2 separate regions of the Homo sapiens genome follow, and region 1 is linked to region 2. The links come from fine-mapping of genetic effects on gene expression. A gene starts in region 2. The other region holds a variant in brackets. All regions are shown on one strand. Distances are between the middles of the regions. Region 1 overlaps GTF3C5 (general transcription factor IIIC subunit 5). Region 2 holds the start of CEL (carboxyl ester lipase).

Region 1 (8,000 bases), 21 kb before region 2:
TGCTTCCGTCCGGAATGGGGATCTTTCCATTCGCAAGCAAAAATGTCTCGGCTGTCCTCAGACAAGGGGCATGCCCAAAAAGCATCTTAAATATATTACTGTAAACCACTGATGGTCGTATGGAATTTTGCTGAGGAGGGTGTAAGGATTAGGGACAACAGGGTGAGTAGTCTGGAATATCTGGCTGATGGCCCAGAGGCCTTGCACTAGTCAGTATGACCCATCTGACTTTCTTACAGGCAGTATTGGGATAAGGGGACACACCGGGTTCAAGGAGCCCGTCCCTAATGAGACTCTCAATGATAGGTTTTAGGCCTATTCTGCCTTCTAAGGGGATGGGATATTGCTTCCTTCTTACTATTTCCCCCCGGGGTTTTTAACTTTATATGTATGGTGGGGGGGTGGGACTTGGAGTCTTCCCCAATTCCCTTCCCTTGACCAGAGATCGGGATGAATGTATTTTTCTTCATGGTGGTAAGTAGGTTTAATGAGGTGAGGAATCCTTCTGGGCTAACATGTAAACCTATACCTAACTTTAAGTCTCTTCCTAACGGGTTAGTTCCTGCTTCAGGGATTAGCAGAAATTTAACGTGGGCTGTTCGATTTTTATGTTTGAACTCTGCGTCTTCTAAGATTTTTGCTCTAAATCCTTCTCCCTTTACCCCTGAAACAAAAAGCTCTTCTGAGGAGCAGCTGACGCTAGACGGAAGGGAACAAACAGAAGAGCGAGCAGCACCCTTCTGCAGAAGTAAACTTAGCACATTTAGTTCTGCAGAAGAAAGGTGCTGTGCTGCTCGCTCTTCTGGCCACCAGAGCACACGGAACAAAGGAGGAAAGGTTCCTGTGTCTTGTCCCACTGGCTGGAGTTGGACCGCACAATCTAAGCTGATCTCGATTGGCTATTTCAAATAGAACAGGGATGTGGGTTACAGTGGCTGGATGAGCGGTTTCGCCAGGAAGAATAGTTTCGGCGGGAAGGGCAGTTACAGAGCGGGTAACTAAGGGCAAGGAGGCGCAAAGAACAAGGAAGTTAGACTTTGAAGATGGAGAACAAAGAAGAAGGGAGTTGAACAAGCTGAACCTTTGAGGAGGAACTCACTCAACCTGGATATCTAATATCCGGGACACTGAGAGAGGGACGGAGTTGCTGGACGGCGGCTGAAGGGGAGAGTCTACCCGGGCGTGTGGTTTCCTTGGCAACGGAGAGTGTGGTGGACTCTGGGTGCCCAATGGGCAGGGCTTTGGTATCTGTAATTGCCAGGAACAGCCTTTTTCTCCCCAGGGGACAGAGGGGAAGGGACTGTGGGGGAGACCCCTAGGAGCTTTTTTTTTTTTTTTTTTGAGACGGAGTCTGGCTCCGTCGCCCAGGCTGGAGTGCAGTGGCGCGATCTCGGCTCACTGTAACCTCCGCCTCCCGGGTTCAAGCAGTTCTCCTGCCTCAGCCTCCTGAGTAGCTGGGATTATAGACACCCACCACCACGCCCGGCTAATTTTTGTTTTTTTTTTTTTAGTAGAGTTGGGGTTTCACCATGTTGGCCAGGCTGGTCTCGAACTCCTGACCTCAGGTGATCCACCCAGCTCGGCCTCCCAAAGTGCTGGGATTACAGGTGTGAGCCACTGCGCCCGGCTCCTAGGGGCTTTTTTTTCATTCCATCCACAAATGTGAGCCACAGCCTGGGCACTGGTGCCAGGAATGCAACTCTGCAGCCCCACAGGGTGTGTTGCACTGCCGTATCCTCATTACCCGGGGTAGAAAACTGAGGCACGGGGAGATGAAGCTCTGTTGACTTACCTGAGAGGGATAGACTGTTATGTTGTTAGGATTAGAGGTAGTGATGGTTGACATCTTATTCTCTGCCACGTACGGCTCTAGGTGCCTTACTTAGAGTCCGTCCTCTTTAGAACCCTACCAGGTAGGAACTGTCAGAGTCTGTATTTTACGGGGGAAGGAACTTGTTCGAGGTCACACAGCAAGTGGGGCAGCTGGAGGATGCTATGTGTAAGTTCTTTACATGTACCAGAACTTGAAGTGTCTCTTTAGAGAAGTTTTCCCTGATTGCCCTAACTAAAGTGGCCACTGGCAATTATCTGCCTCCTCATCCTGTTAATTCCAATCTGAAAATGTTTTAAAATGTTTATTCTGACAAAGGCTTATACATATAAAACATTTAAGAAAAAAGGAAAAAAAAATTTACTGTCTCTCGTCCTCTTGACCCTAAGACTGTCAACTCCATGAGAGTGGGGACTTCTTTTGTTCACTTCTGTACTTCTTTATTTTTATTTTTTTATTTTTTGAGACAGGGTTTCATTCTGTCACCAAGGCTGGAGTGCAGTAGAGCAATTATGGCTCACTGCAACCTCAACCTCCTAGGCTCGGGTGATCTTCTCACCTCACCCTGCCAGGTAGCTGGGACTATAGGCATGCACCACCACGCCCAGCTAGTTTTTGGTATTTTTTGTAGAGACGTGGTCTCCCTAAGTTGTCCAGGATGGTCTCGAACTCCTGGGCTCAAGCGATCCGCCTGCCTTGGCTTCCCAAAGGGCTGGAATACATGCATATGAATCTGCCGGGATCTTGCTAAATGAGCCACCATGCCTGGCCCAGTTCTCTGTTCCTAACATCCATAACAGTGCCTAGTTCTGTAAATACTTGTCAAATGCACGATTGAGTCTTCACAGCAATCTAGTGAGTTAGATGCCATTTTTATTCACATTTTTCAGATAAAGACACAAGAAAGTTTAGGTCAGACATCTACATGGTACAAGGGGATTTGAACTCATGCTTTGCTCTAGAGTCTGAACTTTTACCTGCTGCTTCCTCATCCTTTATGAATATGGAAAAGCCCTGAATTCATTAAGCACGGGCTGCCAGTAGAGCCCCAGTTAATCACGTTTTCTTCTTTTATATTATTCTCTTGATTTATGGCTTTGACAGAATCCTTACTCTCGCTAACCTCAGGGATTATTACAGTGTGAGCACTTTGGGAAGGGACCTTCCTTACTCATTCACTCTTCTCATGTTTCTTGAGCACCTCCCCTGTGCCAGGCCTACGTTTGGGTTCATTCCCGCCCCATCGGGACTCAGAGGTGTGTGTTTTATGAGGAGGAGATTCCTGAGAACCAAGTCTTCTTCATTCTCTCCCGAGATAGTTCCTGATCACTTCCTAAGGGACAGACCCTGTCCTGGGTGTTGGGAACCAGCTCACTAGCACGTAGGTGACCTTGTCCCAGTTCACGTTGTTGGTGCTTTCATATGCACACATCCAGTGCTCGTTGTGACCCAGCATTGGGCAAGTATTCATTCATATGTACGTGGCACATATTGAATGTCTACCATGAGTTAGGCACCAGGAGCTGTGCTTTATAGATATTTAATCATAACAGTCGTATGACATAGATGCTATTCTTGGGGTTTTTAAGGAGAGGGACCAAAAAGAGTGTTGGTATTCAGTTTCATGTGCTTGGAAAGCTAGAGGTAACAGCAAGTCAGAGCCCAAATGGTTGTTACTGATTGATTTAATCTCATTTGGACCTCGAAACATTTGCATATGAGACTAAATACCAAGACCCTTTATGGTGGGTAGTTGTTAGAGTAGGTAACCCTAGACAAGCCACTCCACCCCGCACCAAGCCTGAGTTACCTCCAAGATTGTGGGTGGCAAGCCACCCAGGTGCTGAGGCAAGAGACCGAGGGCATGAGCTGTTCCAGTATAATAAAATACATAAAACAACAAGTTATACTAGATCTAGATCATAGACATGATTATATATGAATATCATTAATCATTAGTTTGTAGGAATTACTCTTTATTCCAATATTATAATAATCCTCGCTCTATAATCATAACCTAAGAAAAACCAGGTCATACAGAGATAGGAGCTGAGGGGACATGGTGAGAAGTGACCAGAAGACAAGAGTGCGAGCCTTCTGTTATGCCCAGACTGGGCCACCAGAGGGCTCCTTGGTCTAGCAGTAACGCCAGTGTCTGGGAAGACGCCTCTTGCCAAGCGGACCATGGTCTAGCGGTAGCATCAGTGTCAAGGAAAAACACCCGCTACTTAGCAGACCTGCAAAGGGAGTCTCCCTTTCCCTGGGGGAGTTTGGAGAAGACTCTACTCCTCCACCTCTTGTGGAGGGCCTGACATCAGTCAGACCTGCCCGCAGTTATCCGGGGGACTGTCTCCCTGTGATGCTGTGCTTCAGTGGTCACGCTCCTAGTCCACCTTCATGTTCCGTCCTGTACGCCTGGCTCTGCCTTTTAGATAGCAGTAGTAAATTAGTGAAAGTACTAAAAGTCTCTGATATGCAGAAGTAATGGCATAAGCTGTCTCTCTCTCTCCCTCTCTGTCTGCCTCGGCTGCCAGGCAGGTAAGGGCCCCCTGTCCAGTGGACACATAACCCACGTGACCTTACCTATCATTGGAGATGACTCACACTCTTTACCCTGCCCCTTTTGCTTTGTATCCAGTAAATAACAGTGCAGCCAGACATTTGGGGCCACTACCGGTCCCCGC[A/G]TTTTGGTGGTAGTGGTCCCCCGGGCCCAGCTGTCTTTTCTTTTATGTCTTTGTCTTGTGTCTTTATTTCTGCAGTCTCGTCTCCACACACAGGGAGAAAAACCCACCGACCCTGTGGGGCTGGTCCCTACAAAGATAAGGGTGATAGTATCTCCCCTCAAGTGTTGCCAGAAGGACCAACTAATGCCCCACACCGAGCAGGCACTTGATGGATGATGGCATTTACTTAGAAGGAAGGAGACGATTCTCATTTTTTCCACCAGATAAAAACTAAGATACATGGGTTTAAAAAATGGGCCTTTTGGGAATTAAGGGCCCAGAATGAAACATGAGCCTCCTGGCCTTTCCTGGATCACCGTCAGGCTTTTATTGAGAGAGGAGCAGCTCCCCACTGGCTGCTTGGCTTGTCATTGCTTCACTCTGTCTCCTTTGGCCTTGCCACAGATCTACGCAGACCCCACCAAGAGGCTGGAGCTGTACTTCCGGCCCAAGGACCCATACTGCCACCCAGTGTGCGCCAACCGCTTCAGTACCAGCAGCCTGCTGCTCCGCATCAGGAAGAGAACGAGGCGGCAGAAAGGGGTGCTGGGCACTGAGGCCCACTCCGAGGTCACATTTGACATGGAGATCCTTGGCATCATCTCCACCATTTACAAATTTCAGGGTAACTGAAATCTGCTCTTGCAATGTCTGGTTATTTCAGGGCTGGCCATCCTAGCTGCCTGCAGGAGCTGTGTGGGTCATCTGCACCAGTGGAGGGGGCCAGGATATGCCCAGGGGCTGTGGGGACACAGCAGGGCACAGGCCCCATCCAGGAGGCAGCCTTTCTTCCCTCCAGCCAACAGTTCCCCAGAGACTGCAGGTTCATTGCTGCCCAATCTTCAGCATTCTTAAGCTAGAAATCTCCTAATTTTTAATGAAACCATTGTGTGGGACCAAATAAAACTGGTCAGTAGACCTCCAGTCTTTCCCCCACCACAGTGTTTTGAACCTTCTCTTGTCTCGGCTGCTGTTGGTCTTGCCCTCCTAGCTCCCGAAGCCCCTTGGGACCTCCTCCTCCTCTGAACTCTCAGCAGGTTGAACGTCCCTCGTGGAGCCCTCAATCAGGTTTCCCACCTACCAGGAACCCCAGTGAGGAAGCAATAAAGCAAGGGAGGGAGACGGGTGAGAAAGACAGACTCTGGCATTGTGCCTGCCTGAGCCCTGCCAGTTTCTTTGGGAGGTGGCTTGGCTTCCCTGAGCCTCAGTGTCCTTGTCTGTGCAGTGCGGGCTACAGAGCCTGCGTTCCTTAGGCCCTCGTGAAGATTCCGGGAGGCAATGCTTGTGAATGGGCCAGCCTCTGGCCCACAGGAGGTGCCTGGCATATTACTAACAAGGCTTAGAGATGGCTAAGTTACATCTGCAGTTCTAGGCAGAATCTGAAGAGTATAAAGATTGAGAAGGGCAAAGAGGACTAGAAAGAAAAGAGGGGAAGAAGAAAGTGAAATGAAGGAGAAGCAGGACCTGGGGTCCCATGGGTTGGGCATTTTTAATGGCAGTCATTCTGGTGGGTCATGGCATTCACCAAAGAGGGCTGTTCTTTTGGGACAAGGTTTCCCAAGTGATTCATAAAACATAACACCTCATATTTTTCATCGAATTGAACCAGCATCTTGCTGCTCTGTGTGTGTCTCTGGACTGGCAGCATCAGCCTCACCTGGGAGCTTGGTAGAAATGCACCAGGTCAGAACCTGCATTTAGCAAGATCCCAGCAGATTCATATGCATGTTACTAGGTTGGTGCAAAGGTAATTGCAGGTTTTACAGTTAAAAGTAACATTCATCTAAGAAGCACTGACCTGGACTCCATCCTCACCTATCATGTAGCTCCCCACCTCCCCAAAATAATTTTCATGTAAGTGACTTAGACTGCATGGAGCCAACTTTGCAGAGGCATTTGGGAAGGGTGTGTTTTCCTGCCACCCTCACCCTGCAGCCTCCACCACATGGCCCACTCAGCACCTCCCTAAGCAGATGTGGGTGTCGGTGTGTGGCAGCTGCCCATTCCTGGACTCAATGTCTGCCATCTGCCCACCTCTCTTTCTAGGGATGTCTGACTTCCAGTACTTGGCTGTGCATACGGAAGCAGGCGGCAAGCATACGTCAATGTATGACAAGGTGCTCATGCTCCGGCCCGAGAAGGAGGCCTTTTTCCACCAGGAGCTGCCGCTCTACATCCCCCCACCCATCTTCTCCCGGCTGGACGCCCCGGTGGACTACTTCTACCGACCAGAGACCCAGCACCGGTAAGGCCCCCCTCCATGCAGCCTCGGTTCTCTATCCTGAAAATGGGATGGTCCGGGCACGGAGGCTCACACACTGGGCGTGGTGGTGCACACCTGTAATTCCAGCTACTCGGGAGGCTGAGGCTGGAGAATCACTTGAACCCAGGAGGCGGAGGTTGCAGTGAGCCAAGATCGCGTCACTGCACTCCAGCCCGGGTGACAGAGTGAGACTTTGTCTCCCAAAAAAAAAAAAAAAAAAAAAAAGAAAATGGGATGACAGTAGTACTACCCAACAGACGTATTGGGATTGAATTTAAAAAGTGTGTGCAGTTCTCAGCACAGGGCTGAGTACAGAACAGGGCCTTAGTAAGCGGTGGCCTGTGTGATCGCCAGGTTGGCCTCAGTCCTGAGGACAGTGCAAAGAACGTGACTGTGGGACATGTGGGTTCCTGCTGAGAAATGTCCTTTGGCTTAATCCCCTGGTCATTGCTGACCAGCCAGTCTCTGGACCTTGCTGTCACTAGTAATGACACTACCTAAGCAAGCCTCGTGGGAATGTCCCACTCTCTGACCCCAGCTCTTTCCTACTTCCTTTGCTCCCCATGGCCTCACCGTCCCTGTCCGTGGCGGAGATTTTGCAGCCTCTTTATCATCTGTCCCTGCCCTGCCCTCCTCTCTTTGCCACACTCACCTGCCAAGCCTTGGTCCTACTTCACCCCAGCTGTTTACCCTTTCCTGGTCTGCCCTGTGCGGCTGGAGGTCGCTTCAGAGAACCCCTGACCCTGCCCATCGCCCAGTGCCATCCTTCTCAAGGCATCTGTGACTCTACACAGCTCTCGCCTGCTCTGTACTTGGTTATGGACTGCGTCCCCTCCAGAACACGGTGCCTCTCCTGAGGACAGGCGCTCACTCTCTCTCATCAGTAGTGGGTTTCTCCTACACCGAGAGCTATGAAAAGCCACATGGACGTGACTCATAGTGCACCCACCGCCACCCCCTGCCACCCACACACAGGCTCCGTGCACAGCCTGCCCAAGCCCACATGCAATTCAGATGAAATGAATTCTGTAACTCAGAGGTTCTTGACATAATTAGAGACCTCAGCGGCTGTTGGAAAGGCAGGCCTGGGCATTGTCAAATGTAGTCAAATTGTCAAATGCCATACATTGACATAAAAGAATAGGATTTCCTTTATATAAAATCCAAGATTGAATACTGTGAA
Region 2 (8,000 bases):
ATACTTACCCACCAGCTTCTTAAGAGCTCGAGCTCGGACCCTTATAGTAGTAAACAGGCTCCCCAGAGCCTGGTGGCCTTTCTGGGGCCACCCGGCAGCCTGCATGGGACACCCATGGCCTTGTCTCCTCCGGCCCCAGCTCTCTTTTCCAGCTCAGCCAAGGCTGATGGCGGAAAAGAGCAGCTGACGTACGAGTCTGGGGAAGACGAGGAGGATGAGGAGGAGGAGGAAGAGGAGGAGGAGGACTTCAAGCCATCCGACGGCAGTGAAAACGAAATGGAGACAGAGATTCTGGACTACGTGTGACAGGGCCCAAGGCTGGGCCTCCCTGACCCGGCCAGACTGGTGTCTGGCCTAATGAGGGAGCCGGGGCTCCCCATTGCCACCCACAGTGCCCGGAATGGCCCTAGGAGGCCCTCTGAGGAGAGCTAGAGTCCCAGCAAAGGGTGCAGCTGACCCTAGCACTGGCTGTGACATGCTGCTTGGTGCTGCCTCTGGTCCTGAGGGGTTAGGGACATCCCCAAAGGGTATACCCTGGCTCTGCCACCCATGAACCAGCCCAGCATCCAGCCAGTGAGTGGGCACCCAATGCCTCTCAGGATGAGACCAGTAAATGCCGGAGGTGGAGCTGGGCAGCTGTGGAGCCCCAGGCCACAGGCCAGTCTCGCTTGGCTCTCATGACTGTGGTGGTGGAGATAGCGTGGGGAGCCTCGCCCATGGTCTCACGTGGCAAGAAGTGCCTTTAGCTCTGGATCCCAACCGTTTGGCACAGCTTTGGCCACAGCCAGGCCCCTCTGGAATTGTCCTTATTAAACCAGTTTCCCGAGAAGTCTTGGTTTCTTGGTGTGAATGTTGGCGCTGCAGGGGAGTCTTCTTATTGCCTTGGGGCTTGGGCCCCCTTTGTCCCTTCATATATTCCTTCATTCATTCCTTCATTCATTCAGTGACATGCTGGCAGTGCTGGCCTGTGCCCCCCTCACATGTGGTCGGGTTGGGTGAGGGCAGCTAGGAGGACTCCAGGCCTGGGGTCAGTTCTTCTCTAAATGAATACCTTCTTGACAAAGTCATGGGAAACGGGCCCTGCTGTCCTGTGGCTGCCCAGTGTGAAACTAGTGGGTCCTGAGCCCACCGAGCCTGCCTGCCTGGCCCCGCTCCCCATGTTGCCCTTGGCTGAGGCACCTCTTGTGTCTCCCCAAGTCGGCAGCAGCACTCCCTCCCAACCTGTGTGCGTGCCGAGTATTTGTTGAAGAAACAGTCAGTTGTCAGAGAATGGCCCTGTTCTGGATTGGCTGGTTGCTTCTGTGTGGTGCTGAACCTGCTCCTCTCTCCCCTGTATTTCCTGGGGACAGGTGGAGGCTCAGCCAGATTCGGGTTCAAGGTCTCTTCCTAGGCTGCGTCAGTCTGCATGCACGGGAGGTCTGCTTACTAGGATTGACCAGCAGGTTTAGGTGTTGTCAGCCTGATGTGTTGGTCTTTTATCTAACGGTTTTTGGGTTTCTGTGGTTTTTTGTTTCATTTGTGGGTCTTTTTTTTTTTTTTGAGATGGTCTTGCTTTGTCACCCAGGTTGGAGTGCAGTGATGCAATCAGGGCTCACTGCAGCCTCAACCTCCTGGGCTCGGGTGATCCTTCCACCTCAGCCTCCTGAGTAGCTGGAACTACAGGTTGTGTACCGCCATGCCCAGATAATTTTTGAATTTTTGTAGAGATGAGGTCTCACTAATGTTGTCCAGGCTGGGCTCAAGGGATCCTCCCGCCTCAGCCTTCCAAAGTACTGGGATTACAGGTGTGAGCCACTGCGTCCAGCCTATTTAATGGCTTTTGAATAGCCGTTGATAATTGCCTGGACCTACTACTTCCTTAAGGGTGCAAAATGGTGATTTTTTTGAATTATATCGTTCCCTCTGCATTTAGTAGCTGGAATCCTATAAAGGAATCTTCCTCATCGTCTGTTTGATTACCCTGAAATACTATTTTCACAGAAAAGAAGGGAAAATGCCTGTTATCACCTCTAACAGTTTTCAGAACAATGAGTTAGTGCCCTGGCAAGGGCCAGTGACAGGGCAGGAGGGGGTGGAGAGCGTGTTTCCTGGGCTGCCTGGTGAACTCTCACGTCTGTCAATTGCAGGCTTGCTTTTTCATGCCCAACTTGTCTATCTTTGCCCAGAGGCGGCCTCAGGTTGACCTCTGTAGTCCTTTGACACAAGCCTTGGGTCTTGGGCACCTTCCTTACTTACAGCTACCACGATGCTGCAGGCTCCAGCCCCTCCCTGGCATTTCCTGTTGCGGACCCGGCCCAACCATCTCCCCAGGGTGCACTCAGTCGGTGTGAATATGGTGTTTAGAGACCCCAGTCTGGTCACCAGGGGTGGGGCTTGCTCCTGGGATTTCGTTACTGCTAGGGCTTTGGAAGAGACAGAGCCAGGAAATAAGTTTTTTTTTTTTTTTTTTGCCAATTTTAAAAAAATAAAGTATGAGGCTGGGCACGGTGGCTCATGCCTGTAATCCCAGCACTTTGGGAGGCTGAGGCGGGCAGATCACTTGAGCTCAGGAGTTTGAGACCAGCCTGGCCAACATGGTGAAACCCAGTCTCTACTAAAAATACAAAAATCGGCTGGGTGTGATGGCGCACGCCTGTAATCCCAGCTACTTCAGAGGCTAAAGCAGGAGGATCCCTCGAACCCAGGAGTTCAAGACTGCAGTGAGCTATGATTGTGCCACTGCACTCTAGCCTGGGTGACAGAGACCCTGTCTCAAAAAAACAAACAAACAAAAAACCTCTGTGGACTCCGGGTGATAATGACATGTCAATGTGGATTCATCAGGTGTTAACAGCTGTACCCCCTGGTGGGGGATGTTGATAACGGGGGAGACTGGAGTGGGGCGAGGACATACGGGAAATCTCTGTAATCTTCCTCTAATTTTGCTGTGAACCTAAAGCTGCTCTAAAAATGTACATAGATATAAACTGGGGCCTTCCTTTCCCTCTGCCCTGCCCCAGCCCTCCCCCACCTCCTTCCTCTCCCTGCTGCCTCCCCTCTGCCCTCCCCTTTCCTCCTTAGCCACTGTAAATGACACTGCAGCAAAGGTCTGAGGCAAATGCCTTTGCCCTGGGGCGCCCCAGCCACCTGCAGGCCCCTTATTTCCTGTGGCCGAGCTCCTCCTCCCACCCTCCAGTCCTTTCCCCAGCCTCCCTCGCCCACTAGGCCTCCTGAATTGCTGGCACCGGCTGTGGTCGACAGACAGAGGGACAGACGTGGCTCTGCAGGTCCACTCGGTCCCTGGCACCGGCCGCAGGGGTGGCAGAACGGGAGTGTGGTTGGTGTGGGAAGCACAGGCCCCAGTGTCTCCTGGGGGACTGTTGGGTGGGAAGGCTCTGGCTGCCCTCACCCTGTTCCCATCACTGCAGAGGGCTGTGCGGTGGCTGGAGCTGCCACTGAGTGTCTCGGTGAGGGTGACCTCACACTGGCTGAGCTTAAAGGCCCCATCTGAAGACTTTGTTCGTGGTGTTCTTTCACTTCTCAGAGCCTTTCCTGGCTCCAGGATTAATACCTGTTCACAGAAAATACGAGTCGCCTCCTCCTCCACAACCTCACACGACCTTCTCCCTTCCCTCCCACTGGCCTCTTTCCCTCCCCTTCTGTCACTCTGCCTGGGCATGCCCCAGGGCCTCGGCTGGGCCCTTTGTTTCCACAGGGAAACCTACATGGTTGGGCTAGATGCCTCCGCACCCCCCCACCCACACCCCCTGAGCCTCTAGTCCTCCCTCCCAGGACACATCAGGCTGGATGGTGACACTTCCACACCCTTGAGTGGGACTGCCTTGTGCTGCTCTGGGATTCGCACCCAGCTTGGACTACCCGCTCCACGGGCCCCAGGAAAAGCTCGTACAGATAAGGTCAGCCACATGAGTGGAGGGCCTGCAGCATGCTGCCCTTTCTGTCCCAGAAGTCACGTGCTCGGTCCCCTCTGAAGCCCCTTTGGGGACCTAGGGGACAAGCAGGGCATGGAGACATGGAGACAAAGTATGCCCTTTTCTCTGACAGTGACACCAAGCCCTGTGAACAAACCAGAAGGCAGGGCACTGTGCACCCTGCCCGGCCCCACCATCCCCCTTACCACCCGCCACCTTGCCACCTGCCTCTGCTCCCAGGTAAGTGGTAACCTGCACAGGTGCACTGTGGGTTTGGGGAAAACTGGATCTCCCTGCACCTGAGGGGGTAGAGGGGAGGGAGTGCCTGAGAGCTCATGAACAAGCATGTGACCTTGGATCCAGCTCCATAAATACCCGAGGCCCAGGGGGAGGGCCACCCAGAGGCTGATGCTCACCATGGGGCGCCTGCAACTGGTTGTGTTGGGCCTCACCTGCTGCTGGGCAGTGGCGAGTGCCGCGAAGGTAAGAGCCCAGCAGAGGGGCAGGTCCTGCTGCTCTCTCGCTCAATCAGATCTGGAAACTTCGGGCCAGGCTGAGAAAGAGCCCAGCACAGCCCCGCAGCAGATCCCGGGCACTCACGCTCATTTCTATGGGGACAGGTGCCAGGTAGAACACAGGATGCCCAATTCCATTTGAATTTCAGATAAACTGCCAAGAACTGCTGTGTAAGTATGTCCCATGCAATATTTGAAACAAATTTCTATGGGCCGGGCGCAGTGGCTCACACCTGCAATCCCACCAGTTTGGGAGGCCGAGGTGGGTGGATCACTTGAGGTCAGGAGTTGGAGACCAGCCTGGCCAACATGGTGAAACCCCGTCTCTACTAAAAATACAAATATTAATCGGGCGTGGTGGTGGGTGCCTGTAATCCCAGCTACTCGGGAGGCTGAGGCAGGAGAACCGCTTGAAGCTGGGAGGTGGAGATTGCGGTGAGCTGAGATCACGCTACTGCACTCCAGCCTGGGTGACAGGGCGAGACTCTGTCTCAAAAAATAGAAAAAGAAAAAAATGAAACATACTAAAAAACAATTCACTGTTTACCTGAAATTCAAATGTAACTGGGCCTCTTGAATTTACATTTGCTAATCCTGGTGATTCCACCTCTCTGTTGTTCCCATTTTACAGAAGGGGAAACGGGCCCAGGGGCAGGGAGTGTGGAGAGCAGGCAGACGGGTGGAGAGAAGCAGGCAGGCAGTTTGCCCAGCATGGCACAGCTGCTGCCTCCTATTCCTGTGCAGGAAGCTGAAAGCCGAGCTACTCCACACCCGGGTCCGGGTCCCTCCAGAAAGAGAGCCGGCAGGCAGGAGCTCTCTCGAGGCATCCATAAATTCTACCCTCTCTGCCTGTGAAGGAGAAGCCACAGAAACCCCAAGCCCCACAGGAAGCCGGTGTCGGTGCCCGGCCCAGTCCCTGCCCCCAGCAGGAGTCACACAGGGGACCCCAGATCCCAACCACGCTGTTCTGCCGCCTGCGGTGTCTCAGGCCCTGGGGACTCCTGTCTCCACCTCTGCTGCCTGCTCTCCACACTCCCTGGCCCTGGGACCGGGAGGTTTGGGCAGTGGTCCTGGGCTCCTGACTCAAAGGAGAGGTCACCTTCTTCTTGGGCGAGCTCTTCTTGGGGTGCTGAGAGGCCTTCGGCAGGTCATCACGACCCCTCCCCATTTCCCCACCCTGAGGCCCTCTGGCCAGTCTCAATTGCACAGGGATCACGCCACTGGCACAAGGAGACACAGATGCCTCGCAGGGGATGCCCACGATGCCTGCATGTGTTGCTTCTGGTTCCTTTCCTCCAGTTCCAACCGCCGCACTCTCCCACACCAGTGTGACAGGGGGCCCATCACCCTAGACTTCAGAGGGCTGCTGGGACCCTGGCTGGGCCTGGGGGTGTAGGGCCACCCTGCCCTTCCCCACCTGGAACCTGGCACAGGTGACAGCCAGCAAGCAATGACCTGGTCCCACCATGCACCACGGGAAGAGGGAGCTGCTGCCCAAGATGGACAGGAGGTGGCACTGGGGCAGACAGCTGCTTCTCAACAGGGTGACTTCAAGCCCAAAAGCTGCCCAGCCTCAGTTCCGTCAGGGACAGAGGGTGGATGAGCACCAACCTCCAGGCCCCTCGTGGGGGTGGACAGCTTGGTGCACAGAGGCCATTTTCATGGCACAGGGAAGCGTGGCGGGGGTGGGAGGTGTGGTCCCTAGGGGGTTCTTTACCAGCAGGGGGCTCAGGAACTGTGGGGACTTGGGCATGGGGCCATCGACTTTGTGCCCAGCCAGCTAGGCCCTGTGCAGGGAGATGGGAGGAGGGAAAAGCAGGCCCCACCCCTCAGAAAGGAGGAAGGTTGGTGTGAAACATCCCGGGTACACTGAGCATTGGGTACACTCCTCCCGGGAGCTGGACAGGCCTCCCATGTGATGGCAAACAGGCCGACAGGAGACACGGCTGTTGCTCGTCTTCCACATGGGGAAACTGAGGATCGGAGTCAAAGCTGGGCGGCCATAGCCAGAACCCAAACCTCCATCCCACCTCTTGGCCGGCTTCCCTAGTGGGAACACTGGTTGAACCAGTTTCCTCTAAGATTCTGGGAGCAGGACACCCCCAGGGATAAGGAGAGGAACAGGAATCCTAAAGCCCTGAGCATTGCAGGGCAGGGGGTGCTGCCTGGGTCTCCTGTGCAGAGCTGTCCTGCTTTGAAGCTGTCTTTGCCTCTGGGCACGCGGAGTCGGCTTGCCTTGCCCCCTCCGGATTCAGGCCGATGGGGCTTGAGCCCCCCTGACCCTGCCCGTGTCTCCCTCGCAGCTGGGCGCCGTGTACACAGAAGGTGGGTTCGTGGAAGGCGTCAATAAGAAGCTCGGCCTCCTGGGTGACTCTGTGGACATCTTCAAGGGCATCCCCTTCGCAGCTCCCACCAAGGCCCTGGAAAATCCTCAGCCACATCCTGGCTGGCAAGGTGGGAGTGGGTGGTGCCGGACTGGCCCTGCGGCGGGGCGGGTGAGGGCGGCTGCCTTCCTCATGCCAACTCCTGCCACCTGCAGGGACCCTGAAGGCCAAGAACTTCAAGAAGAGATGCCTGCAGGCCACCATCACCCAGGACAGCACCTACGGGGATGAAGACTGCCTGTACCTCAACATTTGGGTGCCCCAGGGCAGGAAGCAAGGTCTGCCTCCCCTCTACTCCCCAAGGGACCCTCCCATGCAGCCACTGCCCCGGGTCTACTCCTGGCTTGAGTCTGGGGGCTGCAAAGCTGAACTTCCATGAAATCCCACAGAGGCGGGGAGGGGAGCGCCCACTGCCGTTGCCCAGCCTGGGGCAGGGCAGCGCCTTGGAGCACCTCCCTGTCTTGGCCCCAGGCACCTGCTGCACAGGGACAGGGGACCGGCTGGAGACAGGGCCAGGCGGGGCGTCTGGGGTCACCAGCCGCTCCCCCATCTCAGTCTCCCGGGACCTGCCCGTTATGATCTGGATCTATGGAGGCGCCTTCCTCATGGGGTCCGGCCATGGGGCCAACTTCCTCAACAACTACCTGTATGACGGCGAGGAGATCGCCACACGCGGAAACGTCATCGTGGTCACCTTCAACTACCGTGTCGGCCCCCTTGGGTTCCTCAGCACTGGGGACGCCAATCTGCCAGGTGCGTGGGTGCCTTCGGCCCTGAGGTGGGGCGACCAGCATGCTGAGCCCAGCAGGGAGATTTTCCTCAGCACCCCTCACCCCAAACAACCAGTGGCGGTTCACAGAAAGACCCGGAAGCTGGAGTAGAATCATGAGATGCAGGAGGCCCTTGGTAGCTGTAGTAAAATAAAAGATGCTGCAGAGGCCGGGAGAGATGGCTCACGCCTGTAATCCCAGCACTTTAGGAGGCCCACACAGGTGGGTCACTTGAGCGCAGAAGTTCAAGACCAGCCTGAAAATCACTGGGAGACCCCCATCTCTACACAAAAATTAAAAATTAGCTGGGGACTGGGCGCGGCGGCTCACCCCTGTAATCCCAGCACGTTGGGAGCCCAAGGTGGGTAGATCACCTGAGGTCAGGAGTTTGAGACCAGCCTGACTAAAATGGAGAAACCT

The links. PIP is the estimated chance that this variant, and not a neighbour inherited with it, causes the effect. A credible set is the group of variants that fine-mapping cannot tell apart.
Region 1: its variant is the best candidate, but not a certain one, in a credible set for the expression of CEL in whole blood (INTERVAL, PIP 0.58).

Annotation. Positions count from the first base shown.
Region 1 is chr9:133,037,128-133,045,127 of GRCh38, forward strand. GTF3C5 (general transcription factor IIIC subunit 5) reads left to right here. Exons shown (of 11, transcript NM_012087.4): 2 at 4,960-5,179; 3 at 6,601-6,799. Among named protein-coding and RNA genes, the nearest start is that of GTF3C5, 10 kb to the left of the region's middle. The variant A/G (reference allele first, on the strand shown) is at 4,516.
Region 2 is chr9:133,057,675-133,065,674 of GRCh38, forward strand. CEL (carboxyl ester lipase) reads left to right here and starts at 4,307. Exons shown (of 11, transcript NM_001807.6): 1 at 4,307-4,394; 2 at 6,730-6,880; 3 at 6,966-7,088; 4 at 7,366-7,563. The coding sequence starts at 4,329. GTF3C5 (general transcription factor IIIC subunit 5) reads left to right here. Exons shown (of 11, transcript NM_012087.4): 11 at 140-829. The coding sequence ends at 306. It overlaps LOC124902325, which reads right to left and starts at 3,658. Exons shown (of 2, transcript XM_047424377.1): 1 at 3,075-3,658; 2 at 407-500. The coding sequence starts at 3,658. The coding sequence ends at 407. RefSeq lists enhancers at 2,518-3,269, 3,270-4,022.